7 linked regions of the Homo sapiens genome follow. The protein of the gene in region 7 purifies or fractionates together with the protein of the main gene of each other region. This does not show direct contact. Each region holds a gene or a part of one and is shown on either strand. Other genes may lie near its edges.

The links.
Region 1: the proteins of FBP1 (region 7) and CNBP purify together in Homo sapiens (affinity purification with mass spectrometry, with the first as the bait; one large-scale study listed by BioGRID). This does not show direct contact.
Region 2: the proteins of FBP1 (region 7) and FLG2 purify together in Homo sapiens (affinity purification with mass spectrometry, with the first as the bait; one large-scale study listed by BioGRID). This does not show direct contact.
Region 3: the proteins of FBP1 (region 7) and SPECC1L purify together in Homo sapiens (affinity purification with mass spectrometry, with the first as the bait; one large-scale study listed by BioGRID). This does not show direct contact.
Region 4: the proteins of FBP1 (region 7) and ARPC4 purify together in Homo sapiens (affinity purification with mass spectrometry, with the first as the bait; one large-scale study listed by BioGRID). This does not show direct contact.
Region 5: the proteins of FBP1 (region 7) and PLEKHA6 purify together in Homo sapiens (affinity purification with mass spectrometry, with the first as the bait; one large-scale study listed by BioGRID). This does not show direct contact.
Region 6: the proteins of FBP1 (region 7) and FAM120A purify together in Homo sapiens (affinity purification with mass spectrometry, with the first as the bait; one large-scale study listed by BioGRID). This does not show direct contact.

Annotation. Positions count from the first base shown.
Region 1 is NC_000003.12:129,181,097-129,185,095, forward strand, and holds the start of CNBP (CCHC-type zinc finger nucleic acid binding protein), read right to left. Parts: upstream 2,801-3,999; 5' UTR 2,680-2,800; intron 1-2,679. UniProt on the Homo sapiens protein: Single-stranded DNA-binding protein that preferentially binds to the sterol regulatory element (SRE) sequence 5'-GTGCGGTG-3', and thereby mediates transcriptional repression. Has a role as transactivator of the Myc promoter.
Region 2 is NC_000001.11:152,350,007-152,353,506, forward strand, and holds part of FLG2 (filaggrin-2), read right to left. Parts: coding exon 604-3,500; 3' UTR 1-603. UniProt on the Homo sapiens protein: Essential for normal cell-cell adhesion in the cornified cell layers. Important for proper integrity and mechanical strength of the stratum corneum of the epidermis.
Region 3 is NC_000022.11:24,319,331-24,322,830, reverse strand, and holds part of SPECC1L (cytospin-A), read right to left. Parts: intron 1,544-3,500; coding exon 1-1,543. UniProt on the Homo sapiens protein: Involved in cytokinesis and spindle organization. May play a role in actin cytoskeleton organization and microtubule stabilization and hence required for proper cell adhesion and migration.
Region 4 is NC_000003.12:9,805,342-9,807,601, reverse strand, and holds the end of ARPC4 (actin-related protein 2/3 complex subunit 4), read right to left. Parts: intron 1,393-2,260; coding exon 1,387-1,392; 3' UTR 501-1,386; downstream 1-500. UniProt on the Homo sapiens protein: Actin-binding component of the Arp2/3 complex, a multiprotein complex that mediates actin polymerization upon stimulation by nucleation-promoting factor (NPF).
Region 5 is NC_000001.11:204,227,430-204,230,929, reverse strand, and holds part of PLEKHA6 (pleckstrin homology domain-containing family A member 6), read left to right. Parts: intron 1-340; coding exon of another isoform or gene 341-343; coding exon 344-517; intron 518-1,825; coding exon 1,826-1,993; intron 1,994-2,068; coding exon 2,069-2,202; intron 2,203-2,701; coding exon 2,702-2,847; intron 2,848-3,500.
Region 6 is NC_000009.12:93,563,149-93,566,612, reverse strand, and holds the end of FAM120A (constitutive coactivator of PPAR-gamma-like protein 1), read right to left. Parts: exon of another isoform or gene 3,050-3,464; intron 2,385-3,049; coding exon 2,073-2,384; 3' UTR 501-2,072; downstream 1-500. UniProt on the Homo sapiens protein: Component of the oxidative stress-induced survival signaling. May regulate the activation of SRC family protein kinases. May act as a scaffolding protein enabling SRC family protein kinases to phosphorylate and activate PI3-kinase.
Region 7 is NC_000009.12:94,605,576-94,608,518, forward strand, and holds part of FBP1 (fructose-1,6-bisphosphatase 1), read right to left. Parts: intron 1,378-2,943; coding exon 1,240-1,377; intron 2-1,239; coding exon 1-1. UniProt on the Homo sapiens protein: Catalyzes the hydrolysis of fructose 1,6-bisphosphate to fructose 6-phosphate in the presence of divalent cations, acting as a rate-limiting enzyme in gluconeogenesis. Plays a role in regulating glucose sensing and insulin secretion of pancreatic beta-cells.

The sequences.
Region 1 (3,999 bases), on a different chromosome or scaffold from region 7:
GGGCGTGGTGGCACACGCCTGTAATCCCAGCTACTTGGGAGGCTGAGGCAGGAGAATTGCTTGAGCCCGGGAGATGGAGGCTGCTGTGAGCCGAGACTGTGCCACTGCATTCCAGCCTGGCCGACAGAGAAAGACTCTGTCTCAAAAAAAAAAAAAAAAAAAAAAAAAAAGACAAGTAGAATTGTCATAAATCATGTAACAAAACACATTTATACTTTAAAAAAGACATCTCCCTGCCTGTTCCAGATGTTCAAATGCCAGTTTAAGAAAAACCTGGCCAGGCGCGGTGGCTCCTGCCTGTAATCCTAGCACTTTGAGAGGCCGAGGGAGTCGGATCACAAGGTCAGGAGTTCGAGACCAGCCTGGCCAACATGGTGAAACCCCGTCTGTACTAAAATACAAAAACTAGCTGGGTGTGGCGGCGGGCGCCTGTAATCCCAGCTACTTCGGAGGCTGAGGCAGGAGAATCGCTTAATCCGGGAGGCGGAGGTCGCAGTGAGCCGAGATCGCGCCACTGCACTCCAGCTTGGGCGACAGAGTGAGACTCCGTCTCAGAAAAAAAAAAAGAAAAACCCCTGGTCTTCCACTGATTTGGTTCAAAATATTTTACAGACTGCACCATCTGAAATACATTACCTCTCCTGTTACCAATATGAAAAAAAAGAGGACCTTTGGTTCCTCAGAAAAACACAAACTGTTATTTTTTTAAAGAAAAACTTATCAAGAGATGAAATCGGAAAAACTTAAGTCTTTAATTCTGCCCTTGGGAATGTAATAAATTATTCCTTTTATATTCCAATACACAAAGAACTCTTGTAGACAAGAATCAGGCTCAACAAACTAAAAACAGCATGTACCTAGGATCCTGGCAGTTTACAGGTGTTTGATTATCCTTAACCAGAGTAACTCATTAGAAGCATTTAAAACTATTTAGGAGGGGGGAGGGGGAAGCCCAGGAGATAAGTACTATATCTCTTATCTTTTTGAAACCCTCAAAGCTCTACACTCCAGTTATACTGCTTGAACAAACAAATAACATAAAATTGCTAATTTAAATTCGAATGGAAATAGTAACTGGTTACGTTTCACTCCAAAATTGGGTCAAACAATAGGAAAGGGGGAAAAATCTACTTTTAAAAATGTAATTTAAAAGCAAGATGGGGATATTCATTAGACCTCCTTCACTTTGAGAAAGACAAAAAACAAATTCAGTTTTGGCTTATCTCACCTGAGTCCTTCTGAATAATGCCTGAAACACACTAGCTAAAATCACAGACGATTACTGAGCAATGTTCTCTTTTTACAAGACCCCCAAGACCAGAAACAGTCACTTCCTTTGGAAGTGCCCTGTGGCTGAGGCCATATGGTTAACATGTGGGAACAAGCACAAGCCTTACCCATAATAAAATCAACACCTAAACCCAAATGTGGACCATTATGCCATTCTAAAACAGGTTCTCACGATATGGAAAAATCTAGATGGAGGGGAGCTAGTTGAATTTCGTGTCTCGTTTGTAATTACATCTGTTTCATTAATCCAAGAAATGATGCAGACTACCGCCCGCTGCTGTGGTTTTGGAGGTTTGACAAATTCGTGTTTTTTCTGGTAATGGCGCTTTTAAAGGATCCCAGCAACTTAAATAGTGTTAACTCTTGGAATGTGAGCCCCATCAGCCCCTTTTGGAATGGTAATGTAACACAAGCAACTTAGTATTTAAATGACGATAAAAATTCAAGAATCGGAAAACTATCAAGGATAGGGAGTATAAACTCTAAAAGCTCCCAAGTCTTCCAGCAGTCTCGCCACTCCAAACACAAAGGCTTCTTCAGGAACCCTTTGTTGTTGTTTGTTTGTTTGTTTGTTTGTTTTTTTAAGACGGAGTCTCTCTCTGTTGCCCATGCTGGAGTGTAGTGGCGCGATCTCGGCTCACCACAACCTCGGCCTCCGGGGTTCACGCGATTCTCCTGTCCAGCCTCCCGAGCTGCTGGGACTACATGCGCCCGCCACCATGCCCGGCTAATTTTTTATTTTTAGTACAGACCAACTTTCACCATATTGGTCAGGCTGGTCTCGAACTCCTGACCTCGTGATCCGCCCGCCTGGGACTCTCAAAGTGCTGGGATTACAGGCGTGAGCCACCGCGCCCGGCCTAAGAACCCTTTTCTAAGGCCCCCAAAACCCTTGGCACATGGCCCGCCAGGCGCACGACCCCAGCACATGGCCTGCACGACTATACCCACCCCATCCCCCCTTCATCCGCAGCCGGGAGCCTTTCCCCACCACACGGACTCCTTCCAGTGAGTTCCCGCCAAATCCACCCTCGGTCCCTCATTCCGCGACCCTCGAAGCGTCAGGGCCTCGGCCCCAAGGGCGCACGGGCGGGCCTCCTCTGCCCTAAGCCTGCGGCCTGGGGTGCGGCCGTGGCGCCGAAAGACCCGCATGCTCGGCGACCCAGCTTTCCAGGACGAAGAAAGGACAGAAGTGTCGTCCGACAGCGGTGCGCCAGAAACCCGGGTCCGAGGCGGCGGCAGCAGCCGAGCTTCCCGCCTGACGCAGCAGAGGCGCAGGCCAAAGTGCGGCCGCCATCGCCACCTCGCCGCTCCCTACCCTCTCTGTCCGCCACAGACCCGACCCGCACTGCGGCTCCGTCAGCGCCGGGCCCCTCCCCCAGCCCTCACCTTCCGCGTCGGAGCGGGCCCGCAGCGGCGGAGACTCGGACGCAGGCCTGGGGAAGACGGCTCGCAAGGTAGAGGCTGTTTATTTTGAGGGTCCTTGCCTGCGCCACACGCGGGTCTGCACACGGCCCCACATACGCCGCTGCGCACGGCTCTCCTCCGCCTCGCCCACGCGGCCAATCAGCGCGCGGGGTTCGGCAGTCCAATCAGAGCCGCCCGCGGCAGGGCCGCCCACTAGAGCGCGGCGCGGGGCGGGTGTTTCTGCGCGCAGCGTCTTTTCCCGCCGTGCCCCGCGCGCGGCCTTTCACGCCGGGATCCGGGTCCCGGTGCTTCTCGGTTCATTCCCAGCTGGGTCCGGGCCCGGCCAGACTGGGTGGAAATCTGGCTGACCTTGGTGGTCTGTCTTGGCCAGCTGGAGCAAAGGGATGCCAGGGGACGGGTCTCGGTGCAGTGACTGCCATTAGCTTGGGGCCGCAGAAAGTTTCTCCCCTTTCTCGGGCTCCTGCCAGGCCCTTGGCTTTCAGAGCCAGGCCCGATTTCTAGATAACATTTAAGTTTGCAGAAAAGGGGATGCCAAGTCACGGTGGTCACGGCTGTGGGATGCAGCCTCTGAGATTTGTATTAATTTTTGTGAGCCGGGGAAAGGCCTTGCTGCTTTCTCCGCCAGGACTGATGTGTCTTCCCAAGATGAAAGTGCCTGGTAAGGGCGAGGGGCCTCCCTGGGAAGGTCATGAGCATGTAAGGTAATGGGGCCTAGACTGTGACTTTTGGCACGTTTATGAGTGACATCCCCCGGGAGGGCAAGGATAACCATTTGACCTGGTCTGTCATATTCAGGAATAGACTTCAGTTTAGTTGTGGTATTTTCTCCAAAAGAGATTTGTGTATATAGCCCTAGATAGTCTTGTCAAGATTAAACCCAATTTAAACTGTTAACTATAAAATATTTTAGAATTTTGTCTCATTCTAGAATGGCTTTATTCGAAACAAAAAAAAAGGAAGAGTCCCAAGTTTCGTCTCAGTGAAACCTGCCAGTTCAACACTATGATTTATTTTTCTTTTTTTCTTTAATTTTTTTTTTTTTTAAGAGTAGGGTCTTGCTCTGTCGCTGGGTTTACAGGCATAAGCCACCAATCCCAAATCCCGGGGCTATGATTTTTGAAATCATGTTCGTGAGAAGGCAGAGCACATGTGTTGAGAGTCAGACTTTAAACCTGGGTTCAAATCATTAGTGCTTAATCATTGTAAAGCAGTTAGGAGGTTGCGTTCAACATAGCAATTATCAAAGAATGAATGTATAACTTTAAAGACCAATGATATTTT
Region 2 (3,500 bases), on a different chromosome or scaffold from region 7:
TGATTGGCCATGGCTGTATACTTGTCTTTCATTGGTACTGAATCCAGACTGACCCTAGGCATCTCTTGATGGCCCATGACTTAATACCTATCTGGCAAAACCTGTGCTGGATCTTACCTGCCCATGAAAAGTTGTATCTCCGAAATGTTGCTGGCTAGATCCATGTATACCTATTGTATTGAACTCTAACTTCCCATGCCTAGATCCTAATTGCTCATGAGTGTCTTTCTCCCAATCTTCTGAATGCTTTTTGTTATCAGTATGGGATTCCTGTTTTCTGATTGAACTAGATTTTGAATGGCCATGAACTGATATGGATTGTCCATGGCCAAATCCAAGGTGGTCATTTGACTGGCTATGTGTACATCCCTCCCTTCTGGCTGTGTTATATCCAGGTTGAACATAGGTGTTGTTTGACTGTTTATGAGTTACTATAGAATGTCCATGACTAGATTCCTGACTTCTTATAATAATAGGTCGAGACTGATACTGAGAATCAACTGAATGTTCATAACTTACCATTGACTGTTCATGATTTAAACTGTGTCTTCCTGTTCTTTTAGTTGCTTTGGATACTATAAGGTCAGAACTAGAAAATAACTGTCAATGTCTAGACAGTTGCTTGTTTGCAGTGCTGTCTGTTGACCATGAAAGGTGAGAATTACTGATGCTTTTTCTGCTGCCACCAGAAGGCCCATACCCAGTGTGCCCATAGTCATATTCTGCAGGTCCATAGCTGCCATGTTTCCAAACCTGACTTGATCCATGCCTTTGCCTTTCACTACTATGTGACTGAAAATGACTTGCTCTACTAGATCTGGAACCTGTCTGTGTGGATTGTCCATAACCAGAATGGCCATGTCTAGTGGTATCTCCTGTCTGTCCATGAGTAGTTTCCAGTCTCCCATGAACTGTGGATCCTGGCTGTCTTTGTTGAGATCCAGCTTGGCCCTGAATGTGTCCTGAATGTGTGTGTGAGCCCCATGAGTGCACTTCACTGTCACTGGACTCACTGTGGCCAGATCCCCTTCTTCCAGTTGTCCTGGACCCTCTCTGTGTGGATTGTCCATAACCATAGTGGGCATGTCTAGTGGTATCTCCTGTCTGTCCATGAGTAGTTCCCTGTCTCCCATGACCTGAGGATCCTGACTGTCCATGTCGAGATCCGGCTTGGCTGTGAGTGTGTCCTGAATGTGTGGGTGAGGCCTCTGAGTGCACTTCACTATCACTGGACTCACTGTGACTAGATCTTTGTCTTCCAGTTGTCCTGGAACCTGTCTGTGTGGACTGTCCATGACCAGACTGGCCATGTCTAGTGGTATCTCCTGTCTGTCCATGTATAGTTCCCTGTCTCCCGTGAATGGCAGATCCTGACTCTCCATGTTGAGATCTGGCTTGGCCATAAGTGTGTCCTGAATGTGTGTGTGAGACCCCTGAGTGCACTTCACTGTCACTGGACTCACTGTGGCCAGATCCCCTTCTTCCAGCTGTCCTTGACCCTCTCTGTGTGGACTGTCCATGACCAGAGTGAGCATGTCTAGTGGTATCTCCTGTCTGTCCATGAGTAGTTCCGTGTCTCTCATGAACTGAGGATCCTGACTCTCCATGTTGAGATCCGGCTTGGCCATGAGCGTGTCCTGAATGTGTGTGTGAGACCCCTGAGTGCCCTTCACTGTCACTGTACTCACTGTGGCCAGATGCCCTTCTTCCAGTTGTCCTGGACCCTCTCTGTGTGGACTGTCCATGACCAGAGTGGCCATGTCTAGTGGTATCTGCTGTTTGTCCATGAGTAGTTCCGTGTCTCTCATGAACTGAGGATCCTGACTCTGGATAGTGAGATCCAGCTTGACCGTGAGTGTGTCCTGAATGTGTGTGTGAGACCCCTGAGGGCCCTTCACTGTCACTGTACTCACTGTGGCCAGATCCCCTTCTTCCAGTTGTCCTGGACCCTGTCTGTATGGTTTGTCCATGACTAGGGTGGCCATGTTCAGTGGTATCTCCTGTCTGTCCATGAGTAGTTTGGTGTCTCTTGTGAACTGTGGATTCTGACTCTCCATGTTGAGACCTGGCTTGGCTGTGTGTGTGTCCTGAATGTGTATGTGAGCCCCCTGAGTGCACTTCACTGTCACTGGACTCACTGTGGCCAGATCTCCTTCTTCCAGTTGTACTGGATCCTGACTGTGTGGACTGTCCATGACCAGATTGAGAATGTCCACTGGTATCTCCTGTCTGTCCATGAGTAGTTCCATGTCTCTCGTCAACTATGGATTCTGACTCTCCATGTTGAGATCCAGCCTGGCCGTGAGTGTGTCCTCGTGAGTGTGGTCTTTGTGAGAACCCTGAGTGCCCTTCACTGTCACTGTACTCACTGTGGCCAGATGACCTTCTTCCAGTGGTCCTGGACCCTGTCTGTGTGGACTGTCCATGACCAGAGTGGGCATGTCTGGTGGTATCGCCTGTCTGTCCATGTATAGTTCCATGTCTCTCATGAACTATGGATTCTGACTCTCCATGTTGAGATCTGGCTTGGCCATGAGTGTGTCCTGAATGTGTATGTGAGACTCCTGAGTACCCTTCACTGTCACTGTACTCACTGTGGCCAGATCCCCTTCTTCCAGTAGTCCTGGACCCTGTCTGTGTGGTTAATCCATGATGATAGTGGGCATGTCTAGTGGTATCTCCTGTCTGTCCATGAGTAGTTCCATGTCTCTCAGGAACTATGGATTCTGACTGTCCATGTTGAGATCCAGCTTGACCATGAGTGTGTCCTGTATGTGTGTGTGAGACCCCTGAGTGCACTTCACTGTCACTGGACTCACTGTGGCTAGATCTCTGTCTTCCAGTTGTCCTGGACCCTCTCTGTGTGGACTGTCCATGACCAGAGTGGGAATGTCCAGTGGTATCTCCTATCTGTCCATGAGTAGTTCCGTGTCTCTCATGAACTGTGAATTCTGGCTCTTCATGTTGAGATCCGGCTTGGCCGTAAGTGTGTTCTCGTGAGTGTGGTCTGTGTGAGCCCCCTGAGTGCACTTCACTGTCAGTGGACTCACTGTGGCTAGTTCTCTGTCTTCCAGTTGTCCTGGACCCTGTCTGTGTGGTTTGTTCATGACCAGAGTAGGAATGTCTAGTGGTATCTCCTGTCTGTCCATGAGTAATTCTGTGTCTGTCATGAATTATGGATTCTGACTCTCCATGTTGAGATCCACTTTGGCCGTGAGTGTGTCCTGAATGTGTGTGCGAGCCCCCTGAGTGCACTTCACTGTCACTGGACTCACTGTGGCCAGATCCCCTTCTTCCAGTTGTACTGGACCCTCTCTGTGTGGATTTTCCATGATGATAGTGGGCATGTCTAGTGGTATCTCCTGTCTGTCCATGAGTAGTTCCGTGTCTCCCATGAACTGTGGATCCTGACTCTCCATGTTGAGATCCGGCTTGGCCATGAGTTTGTTCTTGTGATTGTGGTCTGTGTGAGCCCCCTGAGTGCACTTCACTGTCACTGG
Region 3 (3,500 bases), on a different chromosome or scaffold from region 7:
TCTTTGTCCAGCCTGACACTCTCCAGGAGGTCCTGAATATCAGATTTGTCTCCAGAGTTATGGATAGAATACAGCTCTGCCACTTTCTGCTTTTCATTCTCCAGCTGAGCCTTCAGGCGATTCATCTCTATCTGGTCACTGGCCACTGTGGCTTTGTATTCCTCTAACGTGGCTGCCAAGGCTGCTTTTCCTTTCTGCTCAGACTCAATAATTCGCTCCATATGGTGACTGCGTTCTTTGAGTGCCCCTATCATTTCTTGAGCTTCCTTATTGTCTTGTTCTGCCATTTTCAAAGTATTGCTTAAATGCTGCTGGACACCAAGAAGCTGCTCCCGTTCAAAACGGGCATTCTCAGCGAGGTCCATGTAACGTTGCTCTAATTCCATATAGCGCCCACTTTTTACATCTTCATCTATGACATAAGAAATGTGATGCTCATCTAGAAGAGAGCGGAAGTATTCAATCTGTCGACTAAAGTGTTCCAACTTATCGCTCTGCTGACATAAAGACTCCATCAGAATAACCTTCTCTTCTCCAAGCCTTTCGTTTTCACTATTCAGTTCCTGGGTAATCTGCTGTAAATCAGCTAGCTCTTGCAGGGTTGCCTGGAGTTCCTCACTTGTACTGTGTTGGTTCTCTTCCATCTGGTGTATCCGTTCAGTCAGGCAAGCCACGGACACTTCACTGGCATTCCCGCTGCTCCCCTTCCGGGAGCGCTCTATGCTGGGGATGCCTTCCGACTCTGAGGAGGATGGTGCATCCAGCGCATCATCGCTCGATGTGAGGGGCTGGTAGACCTCACTGCACTCACTGTCTAAATTGTCCATGGAGTTACTGTGCTGATGGTCCATTAGTGTATTTTCATCCTGACTCAAGAGATCCTCCACTGAGCCAGGGGCAGAGCCTTCCACTGAAGAAGTCAGAGTTCCTCCTCCATCGCTCTGGTTACCAGGGGTGATTTCTGGGCTCAGGGACTGATAGCCAAACAGTTTTTCAGAATTGTCTAACCTCTGCTCTAGGGAAAAGCCCAATGCATTCAACCTGTCCTTTAACATTCTGTTTTCATTTTTCAGCTGGTTGAGTTCTTCACGGATGGCAGTATTCTGTTCCTGCAACTGCAATAAAGTGGACTCCACATCAGTCGGCTGGTGAGCCATAATAGTTTCCTTCTCAGATTTTTCATCACCCTCAGAATGATCCTCATTAATGCCCAGCTGGGCACGCATGTCTCGCAGTTCATTTCTCAAATGTAAAATTTCTACGTCTTTGGTTTTTGCCAGCGTGAGAAGATCCTTCACTTTGGCCTCCAAAGCAGCTCTGTCACTGATCTGATTGTCTGACTTAGACTTGCTCATACGAACGTCACATTCTGTAGCAGTTCGACTGCGGGAACGTTTGGCCAATGCCATGTCATTAGCTCCCTGACCTGCAGAAGGTAGTTTTTTGCTCTGGTTTAATCGGGTACGTTCACGTAATCTTTCTCTAGTAGAACTGGATTCTTTATTACCTGTAGAAGTGCTCCGCTTGGTTGAAGAAGCTGTGCCTATGTGTTTAATACAAAAAATGTAAGGCAAAAATGTCAGCAATAAAAGGCTACATAGAATACACAGTTCCTGCCCCAGGTGTAATGAGATGAAATCCAGGATCTACACAATGATTTAGATCTACAATAATCTTGCCTTAGAGTCTGTTAAAGTTCAATTTCTTCAAAACCAGAAGATCATTCATCTTTTAATTATCAAGGAGAAATAAGTTATACACTTTGTTTTACATGTTTTTAAAAGAGTAAATTTTATGGAATGTGAATTACATTTCTACAAAGCTGTTATTTAAATGATATACATTAACTTGAATCCAGAAGTGGGGTTTTAACCAGTTGGCCAGAGGCATAATATTCTAGGGCAAGACAGGTGAAGATGACTCCAGGATTAGCCAGTCGGTGGTAAACTAACTGTACACAGATAGTGAAGGGAGATCATAGGTGGGCAAGAAGGGAAAAGCAGTCTCTGGGAAAACCAAAAATCTAAGCTACCTACTAGAAACACAAAAATTTTACTCTGACCAAAGTAAATGCAAAATAGTTTTAACACCATAAAATGCCACATAAATAATAACAATTATAACAATAGCTAACACATACCTAGCACTTGGTTATACAAATACATTAACACTTCACATACATTAACTTATATAAGCCTCATTAAAGACGTGAGGTAGGTGCTATTATCACCTTGTTTTACAGATGAAGAAACTCAGACACAGATGTTAAATAATTTGCCAACATGTCACAGGTAATAAATAGATGAGCCAAAATTGAAACCCAGGCAGTCTGGTTCCAGATTTTGCACCTTAACCAGTATGTTATACTGTCTCTCTAAATGTAAAAAACAACGAAGCACTAATGTTAAATAATGATGATGCGTCAATCAAATCTACGTGAATCACATGATTACTTAACTACTAAAATTTTAAACCTGTGAAAACTGACACAATCATTTGTTTAATACAAAAAGAACAGGAAGTTTTTTTTGTTCGTTTTTTTGGTTTTTTTTGAGATGGAGTCTCTCTTGACCATCACCCAGGCTATAGTGCAGTGGAGCGATTTCGGCTCACTGCAACCTCTGACTCCCAGGTTCAAGCGATTCTCCTTCCTAGGCCTCCCAAGTAGCTGGGATTACAGGAGCGTGCCACCATGCCTGGCTAATTTTTTTGTATTTTTAGTAGAGATAGGGTTTCACCATGTTGGCCAGGCTGGTCTCAAACTCCTGACCTCAAATGATCTGCCCGCGTCGGTCTCCCAGCGTGCTGGGATTACAGGCGTGAGCCACTGAATTTACAGGCGTGAGCCACCGCACTTACAGGCGTGAGCCACCGCACCTGGCCAGGAATATGTTTAAATACCTGTAAATACTTAAGAAATAACAAATTTTTATGTTAAAAAATAAGATCCACATCTAATCAATAAGTATTTTTAAAGACCCTGCTGGTTCATTAGGTGGTGGGATCCAGGCTGTAGAGGTAACAGGGAGCAAATGATCTCCACAGATAGAGGGAGATAGCCACTAACAGAACAGGTATACAGGAGGATGCGGAATTCAGGCTGGCAAAAAGACAGACAACGAAAGGAAGCAGAAGTGAACATGGCACACAGAAAGGAAAAGTACAGTCACACAGTTAACGGAAGCTGCTGGGGAATGTTCATATAGAGTCCCAAAAGATAGGCAGAATTCAGTGAGTCACACTAAGTCAATAAATGATCCTGAGTAGGAAAGAAATGTAAGGAAAAGTACATTTTATGAAAATTAATCTAGAGGATACTGATATGGTTTGGCTGTGTCCCCACCCAAATCTCATCTTGAACTGTAGTTCCCATAATCCCTATGTGTTTCGGGAGGGACCTGTTGGGAGGTAATTTAATCATGGAAGCAGTTACCCTCACGCTGTTCTCGTGATAGTGAGTTCTCATGACAGCCGATGGTAAGGGGCTTCCCCTTTGCTTG
Region 4 (2,260 bases), on a different chromosome or scaffold from region 7:
TATATATGGTACAGTCACTGGTAGCTGTTAAGTTGCCAGTGGGACTGGGGAACTGGATTTTAAACTTTATTTAATTGTAATAATTAAAATTTAAATAGCCACTTGTGGATGGTGATTACTGTTTTGGCACAGGCAAAAGTCTACTCTCTTGCTCACTGGCTAGATTTGGGGCAAGCTATTACATCTCATGTTTGGAACCTCAGTTTCCTTATCCACCAAATGGGAGCACTGTTTCTCTGAGGTTACTTTTTAGCCCAAGTAAGTTCCTTATGTGAAAAGCACCAAAGCTCTGTATAGGCAGACAGAGCAGTTTCAGAAATTAATGGTGCCTGGACTGCAATGAATGGAGTCTCTGGGTTGGGACCCCTGGCAGGAATAATGGCAGGACCAATCATGAGACTGCACCCAGTGGGGAGCTCCAGGCACAATTACCAGCCATCTGGTCTCAGGGAAAAGAAGCCCCACCTCCCCTCCTTTCACACACACACACAGCATAGACCTCATGCAGCCCCAAAGGGGCAAAAAGAGACTTTAATTAGGGGAGGGAGGATCCACCAGAATCAGAAAAGGGACAGCTAGCGTGGGAGCAGAGGAGCCAGAACAGGCAGGAGGAGGGCCCGGCCAGGAAGCTCTGGAGGACTCACCTCGCCACCTCTGGCACAGGCACTGGCACTGACGGACAAGGCGAAACAGCGGCCCCTCTCAACTGGGAGGGCACCCAATGGCCCCTGTAGCCAGAGGTTGCCCGGCTTTTGGGCCCCAGGTCCTAGGCATGACTGGTGGTCACCAATTTGGCCCTTGTCCCCAACCAGTGCTGGGGGGCCATCTTTAGGCAGAACTCAGGAAGCTGGCAGAGAGTTCCCAACACTTATACTGGGGCCAAGGAGGCTTGGGAATAAAAGGGCAAGGGAGAAACTGGAGTCTGAAACCTCCCTCCCTCCCCACCTGGGGTGGCATAGGAGAGAAAAAATAAGTCGCCTTCTGGCTCCAGGCCCGCCCAGACCCACAGCAACCAATAACGTATAATCACTGGGACCAGTCACAGCCACTGGAGGTGGAGGTTTAAAAAAAAAAAAAAAAAAAAAGACAAAAAGGTTACAGTATCCTACAAGCACAGAGTTTAAGTTTCAAGACGTTAAAAAAAATCTGTCCCGGCCCAGGGGACTGAACATCAGAAGCCAGCCTGACCAGGCACGTGTGGCCTTGGGGCAGGTCCACTGCTGCTTTCTTGCCCAGCTAGCAAGCACACCACCCACCTCCCGCATCAAATGCCCACCCCAACCCAACTCCCTGCCGCCGCCGCGCTGCTCGGGGAGTGACTCCAGGACGCCTTCGTGGAGACATGGGTAGTCTGAGGGGGAAGGCCACGAGATCCAGCCAGATGGTTTAAAACTGTCAAGAGAACCAAGAGGCAGTGCATGGTGGTTATTATTGCATCCTGGTGGCACTGCTCTAAGGAGGTGCATGAACCTGAGAGCTGCCACTGTGCTCATATCTGTGAGGGGCAGAGTTGGGTCCCAGGACACCTTGTGGTCATGCTCTAATTCAGCCAGCTTTCAGAAGTGACCTATGGGCACCGGCCCTAAGCCTAGCACTAGATAAGGCAGAAAAATTAAGAGCCATGAGAGCTTCTCCACAGCTCCCTTGTGCCCTGGCATGGAGGCTGCTAGAAAGCCCTGCCAGCGTCCTGCCTGGTGAACTGAGGTTGCTTTCTTTAGGCATGGGGGCTCTCATGCAAGGGGCCTGGGGACTCAGAGGGCCAAGTGGAAAAGGACCCAGGTTCTGGTACTTTTGTGTCAAGCTCTGGATGAACCTCCAACCAAGCCAGGCCCTTGAAATGTTTTCTGCCCTCAAGGGTCCCCCATGCTGCCTAGGACAGCCCTGCACATTTTAGAGACCAAAGGTTGTGAACCAATGGCCCATGCCTGAAACTAGCCCAAAGATGAGCACTGCATGGCCCACATGGTGTTTAAAACAATATGAATTAGTTGCCAACCTTGAAAACATGGAAGATGCCATATACAAATCCAAATTTGGGGGTTCAATGGCCTGGAGCTGTGTGGGAGCCAGCCCCTGCACATGAGGCATGCGCTCAGCAGCTCCTCACCCTGCCCACTCCATACTCAGCCCACTCCATAGCTACCCGACCTTTGGATGCACCTGAATTTGTGACCCTTGACAAAGGCTATGGTACTTTCTTAGACCTCTGAGTCCGAAAACCCAGCTCCACATTCTGGTTCCTCCTCTTACTGGCTGAGGG
Region 5 (3,500 bases), on a different chromosome or scaffold from region 7:
TATTGCTGGCAATCCTTGGCATTCCTTTCTGAGTAAATGAACCACTCCGATCTCTGCCTCCCTCTTCATGTCACCTCTACTCTGTATGTCATCTTCTTTTCTGTCTCTTATGAGGACACACCATTGGATTTAGGGCCCACTCTAATTCAGGGTGATCTCATATTTCTAAATAAGGTTACACTCTCAGATACCTGGGGTTGGGACTTGGACATATCTTTTGGGGACCACTCTTCAGTCCACTACAGGCAGACTTCCCGTAGAAGGTAAATGTTAAGGGTTCAGGATGGAAAAGCTGGGTGGGGGATAAGGCACTTGTCAGAGCCCTGTTTTCCCATGGCAGCAGGAACGCCCCAAGAGTGCTGTGTTTCCTGGCGAGGGGAAGGTCAAGATGAGCGTGGAGGAGCAGATTGACCGAATGCGGCGGCACCAGAGTGGCTCCATGAGGGAGAAGCGGAGGAGCCTGCAGCTCCCGGCCAGCCCGGCCCCCGACCCCAGTCCCCGGCCAGCCTACAAAGTGGTAATGCCTTCCCAGCTACCCACAGGCGTGAGCCTGGCATCTGCCAACACTGCCCACTCCCAGGGCATGGCCAGCTTGGGCCTGGGGGGTTTGAGAGGAAGGAGAGGGGAAAGAACCCAAGCTGGGCACCTGGGAGAGCCGGAGAGTCCTCTCCCCCATCGGCAGAAGAGTCCTTCAAGTGTTGACTTTTTCTTGTTTAAAGAAAATAACTCACAAAAAGGAATGCCTTAATTATGTTTGTTGAAATGAATTATACAAAATTCACTTAATAGAGAATAGTACAGAATTCACCACACAGAAATAGCTGTCACTTACACCCATTTCTGGAGCATCTCCTCTGTGCCTAGCACTGGGCTGGCTGCGATGAAGATAATCATAATAGCTCACCATTGCATGGCACAGTATAATCCACAAATCCCTTTCATGTTATTTCATTTAATCCTTTTAACAACATTGGGTTAGGAATTATTATCCCTATTTTGCAGATGGGGAAACAAAGTCAAGAGAAATTAAAGGATTCCTGGGCTACACAGCTATTAAGTACAGAGCTGGATGTAGCCCAAGACATCACTTAAATTTTCTTTCCATTAAATTTTAGAAATATGGAAAAATTATGACTCATAAGTCCTGTCCTCAACAGCTTACATTCTAGTTGATGGATTAGAACTTCTATAATATGAAATCACTGGAAGTTAGCCGGGTGTGGTTGGCTCCTCATGCATGTAATCCTAGCACTTTGGGAGGCCAAGGTGGGAAGATTGTTTGAGACCAGGAGTCTGAGACCAGCCTGACAACAAAGCAAGACCCTATCTCTATAAAAACATGTTTAACAAGTAGCTGGGCATGGTGGATTCACCTATAGTCCCAGCTACTTGGGAGGAGGCTGGGATGGGAGGACTCGAGGCCAGGAGTTGGAGACTGCAGTGAGCTATGATTCTGTGACTGTACTCCAGCTAGAGTGACAGCAAGACACTGTTTCTTAAAAAATAAAAAGAAGAAATCAATACAAGTCACACTAATTCAGCTGCCCAAAATATGTAGCACAGAATGAGAATACAGGGTAGAGCAGGATGGGGAACAGCAAGAACTGACAAGAGATGATGAGATGTTGCCCCTGGGGCCTAGCAGGTGGGCAGGCTTTGGGCCAGCAGAAAGGAAGGAAGATAGTTCTGCAGTGGGGTATGGTGGGAGCAGTGGGGTGGCAGCTAGATCAGGCGAGCTGGGAAGGGAAAGCGAGGACAGGGCATAGCTAGAGCTGCCTGGAGGCATGGGTAGCCATGGTGCAATCACGATGCTGCTGTCCCCTAGGTGCGCCGCCACCGCAGCATCCATGAGGTAGACATCTCCAACCTGGAGGCAGCCCTGCGGGCAGAGGAGCCTGGCGGGCATGCCTACGAGACACCCCGGGAGGAAATTGCCCGGCTTCGCAAAATGGAGCTAGAGCCCCAGCATTATGACGTGGACATCAATAAGGAGGTGAGTGGAGCCAGGAAGGGCTGTAGTGGGAGACTCTGGGAAGGGACAGAGGTGGTGACCCCAGCCCCTCCATAGCTCTCCACTCCAGACAAAGTCCTCATCCCTGAACGGTACATTGACCTGGAGCCTGACACTCCCCTGAGCCCTGAGGAGTTGAAGGAGAAGCAGAAGAAGGTGGAGAGGATCAAGACACTCATTGCCAAATCCAGGTAACCAGCCTGGGTGAGCCTCTACTTCCTCTGCTCACCCTGGCACCTAGGACACCTGGGCCACTAGAAGTCGTTGGGGGCACAGAGCCTCCCCAGGGGAGAGCACATCGAGGTGGTGACTCCAGGCAGCAGACAGGGCCCAGCTACCGGCAGAGGCAAGGATGCTGCTGTCAGGTGCTACTAAGACCTGCCAGGCTCGTGCACACCACACCATCGAGACAAAACTGAAGGCTCGCCCTCTGGTGACTTCTTTTCCCCTTCAAGGCTGCCCTAAATGCTCACTTGAACCTTTTAATTCATTTGAGAACATTGAAGGTAGGGGTCCCAACCTGTGTTTTGCCAGGGTCCCACTCACTCCTAGGGACAGCCTTGCTGGGAACCAGAGACTGCACATTCACGGGGCCCTGGCCCTCCCTGCCAACCTCAGTCCGCAGGCCCCCTCAAGCCACTTGGACCATCCTGTCCCTCCCTCCATTTCTGTGTGTCTGTGCCTCTTCAGTATGCAGAACGTGGTGCCCATCGGCGAGGGGGACTCTGTGGACGTGCCCCAGGACTCAGAGAGCCAGCTGCAGGAGCAGGAGAAGCGGATTGAAATCTCCTGCGCCCTGGCGACCGAGGCCTCCCGCAGGGGCCGCATGCTGTCTGGTGAGAGGGGCTGGGCCTCGCTCCACCCTGCCAGGGAAACCAGCTGACCAGGTTTAAGGGAGGAAGCGTGGCACTGCTACAAGGGGGGCAGTAGCAAAGAGATACAAGGCTGAGGAGATGCTCCTCGAGGTTGAGACGAGCATCTGTTGAGCACCAGGTACTGTGCTAGGCTCAGGGAGGTGCAAAGGGGCCAGAGTTGCTGCATCCAGGAGCTCAGAGCCGGGATGATCCTTACAGCCACCTTAGGGAGTAATGGCCAGAGGCCATGCAGAGCATGGGGAGCCATTCTGCTTGGGCAGGTCAGGGAAAGGCACAGAGAAAAGATGACAGCTGAGTTTGACTGAGAAAGATAAAAATATTTCTCAGTTGCAGGGAGAGGGCCAGGTATTCCAGAGTATCCTTTCATTTCCTGCTTTTGCTGCATGCAAATAGGAAGAAGCCAAGAAAAGATAGTGAGGGCAACCAAAGAGTTGAGAGCGATGCAATTACCACCTTGGCTACTGATCCAACTCACTTTTCTGCTAAGAAAAGATAACTATGAGGAACTGACTTCACGCTGATACAAAGGCTACCAGGTCCTGACTAGATGCTGATAGGGCTGAGATCAACAGGGTCAGCTTCTACTCAGCCTGAGATATCATCCCAGAATAGAT
Region 6 (3,464 bases), 1.0 Mb from region 7:
GCGCCAGCCCCTCCCTGGAGCGGGATCGCCGCAGCTCTCCTGGCCGCCTCCGGCGCCGTTAGCCCACCATCCCCCGCTAGAGGGCAGCACGGGGCGCTTTCTCCAGGCGCTCGGCGGACCTGGGTACGGGGACCTCATATCAGGCTGCAGAGAAGAGCCTTCAGTCAAAAGGATGGCATGAAAAACGGACTATACTTGTAACATCCAGCTTTTAAAACGTGGTGGAGTCAAATTTATTGCTTCCTCAGGGCTTAAAAAAACCTCTTCTGTAAGTCTGCTTTATCAAACAGAATTTTTTTATCCCCTTGGTTGCTTGAAACTGAGCTATCAAACAAATTAATCATATATTAATGTCCCTCTAAGCCGGAAACCTGGAATTACTTTGAAAAGGTAAAATATTTTTCAACTTTGGTTTTCTGATCTTTTCAGTAGTTGTTTCGATTTGAATTAAACCTCTATAAAATTAGCTTTTACAAGTGAATTTAAAAGCCACGCCATACTTTATACTAAAAGAATAAAGATTTTTATTAAGCATTGTAAGTTGCATTCAATAGCCTTCAGATACACCACACCACAATCCATCGACAGTCAATCAAACCCAACAGCAGTTCATTCTTGCACAATCCATGAGTTAGGGCAAAACTCCCTTCAACTTACAGTAAGATCCTACTTAGCTCTTGCGGGCAGGGGTTGGGGAATTACACCTCATTTCTGATCACTAATGTGATGAAGAGCATCAGAAGTATATGAAAACGATAAGAAGTGATTCTGATTTCAAAGTACATTGTTTGGAAACATTAACAAAAACATCAAAATGATAGAAGTATACCTGCTTCTACTAAATTCTTGATGGGAAAGTTCTCAAGAACAAGCAATTTGTTTCCTGCTACAGAAGGGGGGGGTGGTTTTTTTTTTTTTAAGATCAAAGGGTTTTTTTTCACAGAATTTCATATTTGCTAATATGAAGGCATAAAACAGCAACAAAGAACAATAATGCATACAGCAGTGAATACACCAGGGTAATGTTGATATTCGAAACGGCTAGATAATTTTTGGGGGGCTTTAGAATAAATGCAACAGAGGTCAATAATCACAAAATTTTAAGGTTAGAGCAAGATCAGTCAATGACTAAACAGAGTTAACATCTTTTATAGGACTATTACTGATTATTAGCATTTTTGTTTTGCAAATGGGCACATACTGTTAAGAATGGAAGAAAGGACGATAACATGCATATTAACTACACACTTTAAAAATTATGAACCATGCAGAAGTTTAGCTCAAGTAGTAGTACTAATGGTCTACATCCGATTCAAAACCACATAGTTCATTGATCACAGATGCATGGTATTAGTCACGAAAGTTTCAGAACACATTGTGTTGATTTTGAAAGGTCATTTGCATCTTCTATGATTTCAACTTTATCTCCATTTAACTTGCTTGTAAAGTATGTATGATGTATTGTATATTTAAAATCAGCAGAACGGCAATATTACTCTATAATTTTTTAGTTTTGATAGTTGCACTTTTTTTTTTTAACACAAAAGAACCACATCAACAGTGATGAAATTTAAGAAAGAAAAACTGTGGTTGTGCCTTATTTCTTTCATAATCATAAAAATCAAAGCCTTAAAGAAAGCTTCATTGTGAAACAGTAATGCAAAATCAAATATAATGGCATACATATGGTGCCAAATGCTAAAAATTATATTTTAAGCTATATATACTTAAAGACTGCCAAAATTTGTTTTCTTTATAGTTCAAGAAACACAACTAAAGGCTTTTGTCATAACCAGTTTAAACTTTATGTGTACTTCATTTTAAGTGCGGGAGTCAAATGCTCTTCATTTTCTTTCTCTTTTTTGTTTTATTGTAGCATTTTGACTACAACTGGTTAAAACTAAAAATGTGTTGTTTAAATCTCTGATATCAAAGAGGGATCTGAATTTCCAAAGTCCTCATTTTTCTCTTACGGAAAGGACAAAATGTACATAACTGCAGGCTCTCTTTCTCTCCAGATATTCCTAAATCCTTACCCTTCCAGCATCCTTCACCCTCTATAAAAAATAAGTTTACTCTTCTTTATTTAAGACAGCTGCCTCCAGAGCAGCTTCTCTGCGGCAAGCGCTGTCTGTACTTAGTGCATTTAAATGAGGATTTGTATTGCACGTTTTAGAGTCATTATTCAAGGCACTTTCAGAGTGGCTGGGGGCCCTGGCGTCACCCGTGCTCCCGTTCATCTGGGGAGCCGGCTTCTCCTCGGCCATCACTCCGTTTTCAGCCAGGGACCCGTCTGAAGACATAGCAGAGGACTTCGATTCCCCAGATTTTGACTTAAGTTCTTTGGCCACTTCTTCTGCTGAAGCAGCATAAGGAGGTCTGCCCTGTTTAAAATGAAGGACAACAAATGAGAAGGTGGTTTCTGATAAACAGAAGAGAGAGGATGCCAATTTTGGCCTAATGACACTCTCTGCAGATTCAAGAGCAGAAAATGCCCAGCTGGGTCCTTCTAACCCTGTCTTTGCTTTGACTTTTGGGCGGTAGATGCTCTACCTGTCTCAGTCAGTTCCCTCCATGGCCCCTTCCCTCAACTCCTCTGTAGTTAACACCCTGAAAATGAGGGAGATTCCCCCTTCAGGAGCTCTGTCTAATCCTTTGTATGGCACTAAATTGTTTAAAGTAACAAATGCCCCTCAATAAGTCCTCTCTAAAATTGCGACTGTTCCCACTGCCACAAAACAAACAGGGTCTCCCACATCTGCCTGTGATGTGCAGCAGCACACACACCCCATTTCTACTGGGGAAATACAGTCATTGCTAGGGAACCTTAACAAGAAATCTGCACTGATAATTGCCACGTGTTTGTGAAATAACTCTTCTGAATGGGTCTTCCCCACTCCTCTGAACAGATTTAAAAATAAGCCTCTGAAAAAAATGGTCCTTGAGACTAATCCAGCACATTTTCTGAAAGACATGGCTCTCTGTGAAGGCAGTGAAGACAGATCTTGAATTGCTCCTATCATTAGACCAGGGCTCCTCAACCTTAGCATATGATACGCTGGCTCTGTCCACTCTCCGTGATGGGGCTGTCCCACACACCGTAGGGTGTTTAGCAGCACAAACATCATGTTGTCTTCACCCGTTAAAATGTCTAGGCTTCACCCATTAAAATCCAGTGCCCACACCAAGTCTTGACAATCAACGTCTCCAAATGTCCCTTGGGGGCCAATCACCAGGGCTGAGAGCCACTGTCATAGACTGACTCGGTGCTGAAGAAAACATGGATGTTTTTCACCTTCAAACAGTCATTTTACAGACGAGAACAGGAACCTTCCAGCTCGTCATCGCATTCCCTTCCCAACAAAGATGGTGGTACCTTCCAGCATCTTCTAGGCCTCCCATTCTGAAAACCAGGGTATTTGCCTTGTTGATGACAAAATCATCAACCCAGATGGAGATGTGAC
Region 7 (2,943 bases):
CCTGCAAGTTAAGACCAGCAAGAATTAGGATTGCAGAAAATAAGAAAGAGAGTTTTCTTGGTGTCTCCTAAGTTTCTTTGATTCCACATCCATTCACCGAGCACCTACAAGGTATGTATTTGGGGCTGTGCTAAAAAATGTGATGAGAATCCTGTTCCCAATAAATAGAAAATGGAAAAATGGAGACAGCCTCTCATCATCTCACAATAGGTCAGATTGCCCACAGAAGCCCCAACGAGGGTATGGTTGATTCTGGTTATGGGGCTGAGGCAGGCATTACAGAAACTGTACCATTTAGTAACACCTTAAAGGCTGAGAAAGTTTGTTACCAAGCTAAGGAACCGGGCAGGGGTGGGAGGCAGTGTGTAATTTACAGGAGAGGAAACTGCACAAGTGTCTGCTTAGCAATGTGGAGAGGGATATGGTCCTGGAGGAGGAGCCTGTGGGACTCGGGTGTGCGTGTGCGGAGCTTGGGGGCAGGAGGGGAATCCAGGATAAGGTGAAAGGAGAGATGAGTAAGCTGGAGAGAAAGCCTGGGGCAGATCTGAGGCCTCCTTGAACGTCCTGCAAACATTTGAGCTTCATCTCTAGCAAACAGCAGCCATCGATGGCTTTTAAACAAAGAAAGGACAAAATCAGATATTCCATATAGAGCAAGCTCCACACAGCCATTTCTTCTCTTCATATTCACTAGCTTGTAACCTCTTTAGGGAGATGTCACGATGGGCACTCTCGGTCTCGAGATAACTGATAGATGCACCTCAGGCAGGCCTAGCAAGGGGCAGACACCACTTGACGGGCATTTGAGTGGGGGAACCACATTTCATCCCATCTGGGACCATGGACCCCAGAAGGGAAGATGTTTTACTGCCATGAATTCATTCATTTGTTTAACTTTATTATCCTAATTTTCTTCTGCCAAGAGAAAGTAGCAAAGGCTGACATGGAGACTGATTTTTGATGTCTCAGGGTGAGAATTCCAGTCTCCAGTACTGAGGTGAGAACTTCATCGTGGGCTCAGTGTAGACGGAAGCCCAATCCACTCCATCCCTGCTTCCTTTCACCTTTAGGGTAAGTCATCAACCAATAGATTTCCACACTGCTCAGGAGCCCCACATGAGGCCCAAGGCCCTCGATCCCAAGGATCCCTTTCATCTCCGGGGGATGCCCCTGCCTCCAGAACGGCCTCTGGTGCCAGATGCCCAGAACCTGCACCACCCTCCCCGGGCCCTCACTTACTGGGGGGAACTTCTTCCTCTGGATGTACTCAGTGACGGCAGGGTCAAAGTCCCTGGCGTAGCCCTCGTTAAGGCTGTAGATTTTACCTTTCTTTTTTATCTTCACATCCTTGTCCACCAAAATGAACTCCCCGATGGCCTTTTTAGACAAGGAAGGAAAGGTGGAGAGATGACGAGCGCACTGGGTCCCCCAGGCCTGGATGAGGCGAGCGATGGGCTGGGCTACGCTGGGCTGGGGTCGCGGCGCACGGGCACCACTCATCTTGGGGCCCCGAGACACCTGCCAGGCTCTCTGGGAACTGTGAATGGGGTGAGGGGAAGCAAGACAATGCTGCAGAAGCCATCAGGGTGATAACAGACACTTTCGACTTTGTTTGCATATGATTTCAGTCAAACAAGAAAGAAACCACACAAAAATAGGGAGAGCAGACTTGTGAAACAACTGCTAAGCCTGCAAGAGAGTAAGAACCGTGTGTCCAAAGCAATATAAGATGTGTATGCCTTTACCAAACAGAAAAAAGGGTTGGTTCAGGCGGGAGGTGGGCTCTCAGGAGAGACGGGCCACCGCAGGATCAGTCCCTGAGTTACACCCAAGTGCTCAGCGCTGTTCTCGGCTTTACATTTCTACCTTGATGGGAGTTCTCCTTTCTGGGCGTTCTTATAGAACAAAGTAGAACCCTGAGTTTTGAGTCTGGCGTACGTAACTTCCGATGGCCTTTGCTCGCTGGCGTGTGAAGTTTTTCTCAGACTGCCTCTTCCCACATAGCCCAGGGTTAAGCTTATGCCTTTAAGCTTTAGGCTCTTCAAAGGAGATTTGAATTTGGGGGAAAAGTGTTGCAGAAGTCCTATTGCTCCGGATTGAGGATTGTTATGGGTTCCTGTGTGTTTTTGGCAAGAGGGTGATCGAGGCTCTGCCCATTTAGGAGGGGCTTGACGTTGACACAAGAGTTGAAAAGAAAAAAGGCCCACCGACACCTCTCTACCTAGCCATTTATTCCACAGCAGAAATTGGTTCCTACCCATATGGAATACGTTGAAACCAGACAGACAGGGAGAAAGGGAGGGGAGAATTCACAGTGGCCATTGAAAGGTGTCACTGGAAGTGATTCTTCTTTCTTACTTTTATGCCTTTTTTAATATTTTCAAAATTTTTGACCACAAGTATACCGGAATATTCTTTTATCGTTGGTAGAAAAATAAATAAATAAATGTCTTTCAAAAAACTATATAGAAAAGAAAGCCATCTCACAACAGTTGCTGGGTGCAGAGCGCAGGGCCCAGCCAGACTGTCCATGGTGCAAAGGAGGAAAGTCTGTGTACAGAGACAAAACATAAAAGCTCCCAGAAAGTTGAAGCCGCTGGAAACCCGAGTACAGCTGTAGCAGTGTTTTCAGCAGAAACCGTCAGCCTGGCTTTGCAGCAAGCGCAAACAAAGAGGAAGCACTTAGCACCTCCCTGGCGGGAGGCTCAGCCCCGTCAGGCACCGCAGACAGAAGGGCTGGAATCAAATCCCAGCAGCCCTGCATTGCGCTTCCAAACATTCAGGACTGAGGAGGGCAAAAGACTATCAAACACACAGAAGCTTCCCTACAGGGATGCTCCCCTGCAATCTGGAAACAAGAAGGGATTGAATGTTTTCTCTGCTTCCACCAACTCAAAGGTAACAAGAGAAGGCACCAGAAGAATGGGAAGCAGTCAGGGCCCG